2 separate regions of the Homo sapiens genome follow, and region 2 is linked to region 1. A link means that fine-mapping ties the variant in region 1 to the expression of a gene that starts in the linked region. Tissue or cell type: whole blood. Region 1 holds a variant in brackets; the other region holds the start of a gene. All regions are shown on one strand. Distances are between the middles of the regions.

Region 1 (4,166 bases):
TCAGCCAAAATTTGTACATCTTTTAGACATTGGTTTTGGATTTTTAATGATGGTTTAAAAAGTTTTCTTAATTCTCAAGTCATAAAGAAATTAACACATGCCTTCTAGTACTTATAGCTACATTATTTACATTTAGATTTCATCCATTTGGAATTTATTCCTGTGTATTTTTTCCCACATAGCTCAATATTATTTATGAAATAATTCAAAACTTCCCCATGACTTGAGATAATACCTTCACTATTTATTAAACTTCCATAACCATATATGTCTGTTTCCAGTTGTGCTATTCAAATGCGAACTTTGGCCTGTTTTTCTATCACATATCAATACCATGAAGCTTTGAATATAGAAGTTTTATAATGTTTTAAATAACTGATGGGATTAGCCTCCCACATTGCGCTTTTTCCAAAATTTTCTTTGATAGTCTTGTTTATTAATTTTACTTATTTATTCATTTATTTTTTGAGACAGAGTCTCGTTCTGTCGTCTAGGATGGAGTGCAGTGGCATGATCCTGGCTCACTGCAGGCTCTGCCTCCCAGGCTCAAGCGATTCTCCTGCCTCAGCCTCCCAAGTGTCTGGGGTTATAGGCGTGCACCACCACGCCCAGCTAATTTTTGTATTTTCAGTAGGGACAAGGTTTAGCCATGTTGGCCAGGCTGATCTTGAACTCCTGACTTCAAGTGATCCACCTGCCTTGGCCTCCCAAAGTGCTGGGATTATAAACATGAGCCACCTTGCCTAGCCTATTAATTTTTTTTAAAATACAAACCCTATAATCTAGCTCCAGAGGGCAAAATCAGCGTTTTTAATGGAATTGCATCAAATTTATATAGTAAGGGGGAAATTACATCTTAAGGAATTAAGTCCTCCTATCAAGAACGTATTATGTTTTTCCAATTGTTTAAGTCAACTTTGTGTCTTTTATTAGTGTGGCCTATAATGGCATTTCAGTCAATAATGAGCCACGTACATGACCAAACTACCTGGCTAAGGAGTGTGGACCAGGAATACGGTCAGAAATCTTTTAAATCAAGTTTTTAGGAGGCTGCTCCAATGATCAACAACATCAGATGCCTGTGGGTGGTAAGGAGAGAAAGGGCCATCAAGTAGCTATTTGCTGGTGGTTCACAGAGCTGAAAATATGGCAAAGATTATCTTCAAGGGCCACAATGATGTGGCCAGAGTTGGTTAATGGAACTAGAACAATAACACCACCACCTGAAAAGGTGTCAAGAGTAGCAGGGCACCACCATAGTCCCATGAAGGGCCCAAAGGTCAGGCTGTGGGCGGCAGCAGGGAAAGCATCCCTGCCACGAGGCCACACCATTGTGAGACAAGTAGGTCAACTTGTGGCAGGAGCTCCAGTGGGAGCCCCCGCATCATAAACATGGAGTCCTGCACGTTGTGCCATCCACAGTGGTGGGTGCGTTCCCACATCCAGCACAGCGATGGGTCCAGAGAGCAACGTGGCCATCTGCTTAGTGCAGGCTCCACCGGCAGCTTGGCTCTAATCGGTCTCATCAGAGAAGGGGCCTTGATCATTTCCATCTATGTGAGTGACCCAGATGTTTCTCTCAGCAGTCACGATTTGTTTCCACAGTTTGTGACCTGCAAACGGGATGCTGTTCATCTGGAATCTGTAGTTTTCCAAGTGGCTGACCAAATGCTTAGCCGTTGACAACAGCCCAAGAATGACTAAAAATAGGGCAAGTTGCATCAAGGGCAGTCTTGGCCAGACCTGCAAGAACAGCCATGCATTCTGCCTTCTGAGCAGACAGCTCACATCTGTTTTTGGATCTGTGTAGTCACAGCAGCTCAGGGGACACCACTGGGGTTCAGCTTGGAAAAACCATCAGTGACCCAGGCCCATGCATTTAGGGGAA[C/T]CTCTGTAAAGTGAGGGCCCCATGGAGCCACAGCTTCGCCTCAGGTGGTGAATAGGAGATAAAATTTCCCTCAGAGGGCTTGTGCCCACTGTTTTGTGTACAGCCGAGATGCTGCTGGGGCCAGGCTGTCCAAATTCCATTTTCCAGCCTAGGCTTGTTGGACCCTTCTCACCATGTTAGCGATTGAGTCTGAGTTTAAACAGACCAGAGAGTCACAAGGCCTTTATAGGTCAGGTGTGCAGTTTCAATTAGAGGACAAGACCAAGCTGATAGCTGATTTTCAGAAGGAGTATGCCTGGTAGTCACAACAGGGAAGTGACAAGTTCAACACTTCTGGGCATGTGTTTGGGTGGAGGGTGTCTCCCATTGCCAGGGACCCCATTTGGCATAATCATTGGTCACCATGACCTGAAGCTCAAAGGAACCAGGAGTGTGTGAATCTCCAAGGGTGCTAGCATGTCTCTACATGTGGCTTTTCCCAATCAGAATCATCCCCTCTGGCACTTGCAGGACAGAGAGTACAGGCATATCAGTTCCTATCATACCTCTAGATGTAGAAGAAGCTACAGCAGCTATACTGATTAATTTTATACCTTACAAGAAAAATATAAATTTTATATTCCTATTGAAAGGACCCTTTGTATCTATTTCTGCTTGGGTCCAATCAGGAGAAAGAAACCAGACAGTAATTTAAACAGGGAAAGTTGAATATAAAAGAATTAGGTATAACAAGGGATTGGAATAATGAGGCATTGACTAGTAAAACAAGAACCCTAAAAAGTGTGGAAATAACAAATATAAGCAGCAGCCTCTATGCTTAAGTCTGAGATAGAAGTTGCCTGTCCCCTCAAAAGGGCTGAGATCCAGAGCCTATTGAGAGGATGTGGCCATGGCTCACTGGATTGTGGAGAAGTCCCTGTGGTGCTGTGCTAGTCACATTAGTCAGAAATCTGCCCCAGACGGTTCTGGGAAAGCTGCTTGTAGGGAAGGGCTGAGCTACGAAACTACTCAAGGATGCTGGTAGGGAGGTGAGTTGCTGCTGCTGGGTGCTGCTGGCTGCCATGCCTTGCAGAGGCTGAGAACTAGAGAGGTTATGAGCTCTGCAGGAGCTGGGTCCTGGGGAAACCATGTGCTCTAAAGGAGCTGGACACTGGGGAAGCTGCCAGTCTGCAGGAGCACACCTGAACCAAGGGGCAAAACCCTCTCCTTCTGTCTAGTCTACTGACAAAGTTTAGCATTGTTCCAGCTGGCAAAGTATTGAAAGGGCCCACATCTGTTTGCATAGAGCAGGCAAAAAAGGGTGAATTTGGAGCTGAAAGGTGGTAAGTGCATGACTGACACAGTGTATCTGTTGGAAGGGACCTCTACTTGTATCTATATCTTTAAAAAATAACTGGAAGCAAATAGGAGAAAATATTAAGTTAAAATTCTATGTGGTGGGAATTTTGGTATTTATTATATTAGTTTTATAACTTTCTATATGTTTTAAATTTAGCGAAGAAAAATCTTGGTGAGAAAAAGTGATCGGTATATAGCAGTTCAATCTTTTCTAAAGGAGTGAGTATAAGAGTATTAAGCATCTCTCTACTTAAAAAGAAACTGATCTGCATGAATTTTTAAAACTTGTGTGACCTAAATTCTGTTGAAGAAATAAAAAGAAGTTGTTCCCAGTGTTCATTCGTACATTCATTCATTCTTTAAACATTTAATGAGCATTTTTTCCATGCCAGTAACCAGACCAGGTACAAGGTCTCAACCCTCATGTTCCTTACAGTCCAGTGGGTAGGAGGCAGAGGCAGATTCTCAGATAATTAAAGTGGACCTGATGCAGGTGATGCCTAGTTGTGAGGCAGGAAATAGTAAGAATTATCTAGGTAAAGAGAGGCAGGAAATATTTTCCAGAGAACAAAATAAATGTCTGGGAAGGAAAACGTCTAGCCCAGCTTGTCACTTATAAAATAATTAAACCAAGAGAATGGAAAATGTTATACTCTAAATAAGGAATGTCTGTAGAGATGAGCTCTATTTTAAATAAAATGATTAGTAAGTTTGATGGAGTCAAAGTTTTTATAAATGATCTATGAACCTACAGCTCCTATTTTGCCAGGAAAGCTAAAAAAAGAGGTTCTATTTGGGCCTCAGTCCGTTTCCTGGCTATCTTCTAATGTTGATGGTTTTAAGTGGTTGGGATAACTTGGCATGCATTTCAGACTAGAATCAACACATTCTGGGACAGGTGACATAGACAGCTTTCATGAGATGAGCCTTTTATCACATT
Region 2 (4,166 bases), 140 kb before region 1:
TCTTTAGACTGCAATGATACTAAGCAACAGCTTGAGGGCAGCAACAGCGCATGTGCTCTAAAAAACAAAAAACAAAACAAAACAAAACAAAAATCCTTTGGCTTTCCCCAATTCAAAGTACCCTGTATAAAAACTTTTAAGCCAAAAATCAATTACAGATTTATTTAAAGATTATTCACTTGCAAAAAATGATAATCTCATTATGTTTTAAAACTTATCAATGTCGTTTTATTTATAAGTTTTGTACCTACTGAAGAATTAGGGCTCCACAGTCAGGGATTCCTTTGCTGAACGCCCACACACTCTTGCACTCCATTTCCCGTCCCCAATCCCCCCGCAATCATTTACAGGACTCTTTCCACAAGCCCACGAGCCCCTAGACTCATAGATCCCCATTTAGGAAATTGGTGTAAGGTATCACCAGATTCTGAGCCAGAATAGATACTCAAAAAAAAAAAAAAAATGACTACATAACAAAGAAAAAGATAAAAATTTCAAAAGCAGTATCACGTTTTGCTAATGAAAAAAGAATTTAATTCCAATGACAAACAAAACCAGCCAAACATGTACAGAAACAATAGTCCTTAAAAAGTCAATTTAAAAAATGGGTAAAACACCTGTCCACACTATCCTTCCTCTAAGAAACATAAATGGGGCAAGACTCAAGCAAAACTAATCGTCGAAGTCTACTCTGCTCTCCTTACTGACCTCCCGGACAGGATAATAACTTTAAGATTTACTGTATTAATCGCACTAAACTTCTCTCATGTAGGCAATTTCTTTATTCCTCATTCCAATCCTGTGTGTAGATACTATCACCACCTCTACTTTGCAGATGAGAGAACTAAGGCAGAGAGGAACATAAAGCACTGCCACAAAGTGACAAACCAGGATGCACAGGCCGCTAAGACTGCAAAGCTGGGGAAAGCAGACAGGGCGGCCCGCCTCATCACCCGATTCCGCAATCAACCTACCACGGATCAAAAATATTTGCGATGGAAAAAAATAAATAAATAAAACATACCAATAAAAACTACAAAAAATTTTAAAATACAGTATAACAACTATTTACAGATCACTTACATTGCATTCGGCATTACAAGTAAGCTAGAAACGATTTAAAAGATTACGGAAGTGGGTAGTTTATATGCAAATACCACGCCATTATATAAGGGAGTTGAAGGAACTTGAACATCGTGGTATACGGAGGAGGGGCTGGAACCAAAGCCCCGGGGATACCGAGGGACGACTGTACTTAGAAAACCTAGTGACAGAGATTCTATAGCGACCCCGACCCCGACCCAAGACCATCATCCTGCAGATGCCACTGTGCCCAAGGCAGAGCCCCGCGAGGAATCCAGCCCCGAATCCCTGCACCCCAAGTCCCAACGCGGCGTTAAGGATACCAACAGCCAGGATCTTCCCTTCCAGCGCTTCGGGGCTGACCTGCCGCCCGGAGCACTCCAGCAGCTTCCAGAGCCCCTGGACCCCCATGAGGCGGCTGCGTCCTAAGAGCGGACCCCGACAACTTCTACTCTAATTCTTCTACGACGGACTGCACCGCCGCCTAGGACCCCGGGAGGAAGCCCTCCCTGCTCCTACACAACAAAGATGGCAAATAATACAGAAGCCACGGTTTTCCAGTGGGGGACGGCACTAATGGGAGCGCATTAAAGCGGAGAGACTCTGGCTGCAACACGTCTCAGCAGCTGTCACCGCCTCCCGGAAGAAAGACAGGTCCAGAGAATGGCCGTTGGCGGGGAGGGGCAGGGCCTCGCCTCGCCCAGCGCTTAGGCCCAAACGTCTGCGCCGCTAATGGAAGACCGGGGTGCAAGGGCCACGCAGGCGACGGAAACAGCCAGAAGATGTCCCTGCGACACCTCCCGCCTTCGCTGGTGGGTCCGCAAACCCATGAAAAATGGGCCCGCTCGGTTTCCGTCTAATACGACGCGCAGGGCGGAAGCTCCGCCTCCGCACATGACGTATATTTTCTGCGCTTGCAGCACTCCGGAAGTGAGAAGTTTAGCGCCAGTGGTGATGCCTTGGTGGTTACTTGCTTCCGTCACGCTGGCATCCTGAAGGCGTTAAGCATTAAAACAATGTGCAAAAGCGCCTTCTTGGTGGAGTAACGGGCTTTTGTTTTTGTTTGAGACAGGGTCTCACGCTGTCGCCCATACTGGAGTCCAGTGGCGCATTCTTAGCTCACTGCAGCCTGGAACTCCTGCTGCCCGAGCTCAAGCAACTTTCCCATCTCAGCCTCTCAAGTAGCTGGGACCGCAGGTGCGCACCACTATGCTTGGCGAATTATTTTTGTAGAAATGAGGTCTCCCTGTGTTGCCCAGGCTGGGAACTATTTTCTACACGCTTTTTTAGTATCGGTTTCTACCTTTGCGCCGCCGTGTGTGAAGATACTTAACACAAAGTGTTGTTTTACACGTGAAGAGACAACCAAAAGGTGGATGCCTTCTTGGTTTTGTACTATTTATTTATATGCTAGCACGTAGTAACTAAAGAATAATAAAATTTAAAGCCTGTGAAAATGTTAGGGTCCCAAAATTACTAAGCAAAAGGGAAAAGTCAAGCTGGGAACTGCTCAGGGCAAAACCTGCCTCCCATTCTAGTCAGTCATCCTTCTGCTCACTGAGATAGATGCATATTCTGATTGTCTCCTTTGGAAAGGCTTATCAGAAACTCGTATGCAGCCTTTTGTCTCTCATCTACCTGTGACCTAGAAGCCCTTCCTGCTTCCGAGTTGTCCCCACCTTTCTGGAAGGAACCAGTGTACTTACATATGTTGATTGATGTCTCCTGTCTCCCTAAAATGTATAAAACCAATCTGTGCCCCAACCACCTTGGGCACATGTCATCTGGACTTCCTGGGGCTGTGTCACAGCTGCGCGTCCTTAACGTTGGCAAAATAAACTTTCTAAATTAACTGAGACCTGTCCCAAATTTTGGGGGTTCACAAGCCTTAATCCTTGACATATAGTTTAGTTTTCTTCAGCATCTAAAAGTTATAATGCCGCGGCTTGTAGATCAGAAAGGACTAGAAATCAATTAACAGAGTAACCCCAGAAAAGGCCACAGCTCTGGAACCCTCAGGCCAAGATTCAAATCCCCGCATCGTGCCTCACTATGGTGTTTAGCATCCCTGAAGTCACAGTTGTTCAGAATTTGTGTCTCCATCAGTAATCAGGGCATAAAACCAACCTTGCAGACTTCAGTAAGTATTCAAGGTGTTACATGCAACGCACTTAGCACTAGTAACTATAAAGGATAGTATTAGCATCCATATTTGTTCAAATTGGAACGAAATTTAAACTCAGTGAAAAGGCTGACTTAAGGGAGCAGGCAATTTTTTAAAGACTTCTTTATAACAGAAGTATACGGGAAATTGATTTTTTTTATTTTTTTATTTTTTATTTTTTTGACAGGGTCTCACTCTGTCGCCCAGGCTAGAGTGCAGTAGTGCAGTCTCAGCTTACTGCAACTTCCACCTCTCAGGCTCAAGTGATGCTCTTGCCTCAGCCTCCCGAGTAGTTGAGATTACAGGCCCCCACCACCACGCCCTGATTTTTTTTTTTTTGAGACAGGGTCTTGCTTTGTTGCCCAAACTGGTCTCAAACAATCCTCCTGCCTCAGTCTCCCAAAGTGCTGGAGTTACAGACATGAGCCACCGTGCTCCGTGGAGAAATCCATTTTTAGCAAAACCACTTCTATGCTCAATAAGATGGTTCACAGTGGCCATGTTTGGTTGACCTAGTCACATCTAATTTGCTACAGGAATAATCCTGACAAAGTGTTTTTTGCATTTCCTCCATATGTAAAGTAATCCCCAGAAACTGTTCCCAGTTGTTATTTTACTGAGAGTAATATAACTGCCTGTTCAGTATTTGTCTCTTCCCCATGGTAAACTGTAAACTTACTGAAACGAAGAACGATTTTCGTGACTGCTACATCCCCCAATCCTGGCACTTAGCAGTTCTGTAAATATTGCCTAAATGACCTCTTAAGCCTCTAGTCTAAAGCTCTCCAGTGCACCTTGCAGTCTGCTGAAAGAATCTGCTTGGAGGTTAGGCTGATCATTCATTCAGATCTCATCTGAACCATATGTTGCCTTGTGTTATGGTCTGAATTGTGTCCTCCAAAATTCATCTGTGGAAGCC

Which allele goes with the higher level. Positions count from the first base shown, and alleles are read on the strand shown. Sizes are in standard deviations (SD) of each study's normalised expression.
In carriers of allele T in region 1, the expression in whole blood of the gene that starts at base 1,729 in region 2 tends to be higher than with C alone (large effect, 0.87 SD a copy in Lepik 2017).

What was found. PIP is the estimated chance that this variant, and not a neighbour inherited with it, causes the effect.
Region 2: it holds the start of ERCC5, and the variant in region 1 is fine-mapped to the expression of ERCC5 in whole blood (Lepik 2017, PIP 0.95).

What each region holds. Positions count from the first base shown.
Region 1 is chr13:102,707,911-102,712,076 of GRCh38, reverse strand. No RefSeq gene overlaps it. Among named protein-coding and RNA genes, the nearest start is that of METTL21C, 15 kb to the right of the region's middle. The variant C/T (reference allele first, on the strand shown) is at 1,889.
Region 2 is chr13:102,843,595-102,847,760 of GRCh38, reverse strand. ERCC5 (ERCC excision repair 5, endonuclease) reads right to left here and starts at 1,729. Exons shown (of 15, transcript NM_000123.4): 1 at 1,407-1,729. The coding sequence starts at 1,494. All of the region lies in intron 9 of BIVM-ERCC5 (BIVM-ERCC5 readthrough), which reads right to left. RefSeq lists a silencer at 941-990 and enhancers at 1,152-1,974, 1,341-2,130, 2,341-2,390, 1,975-2,799.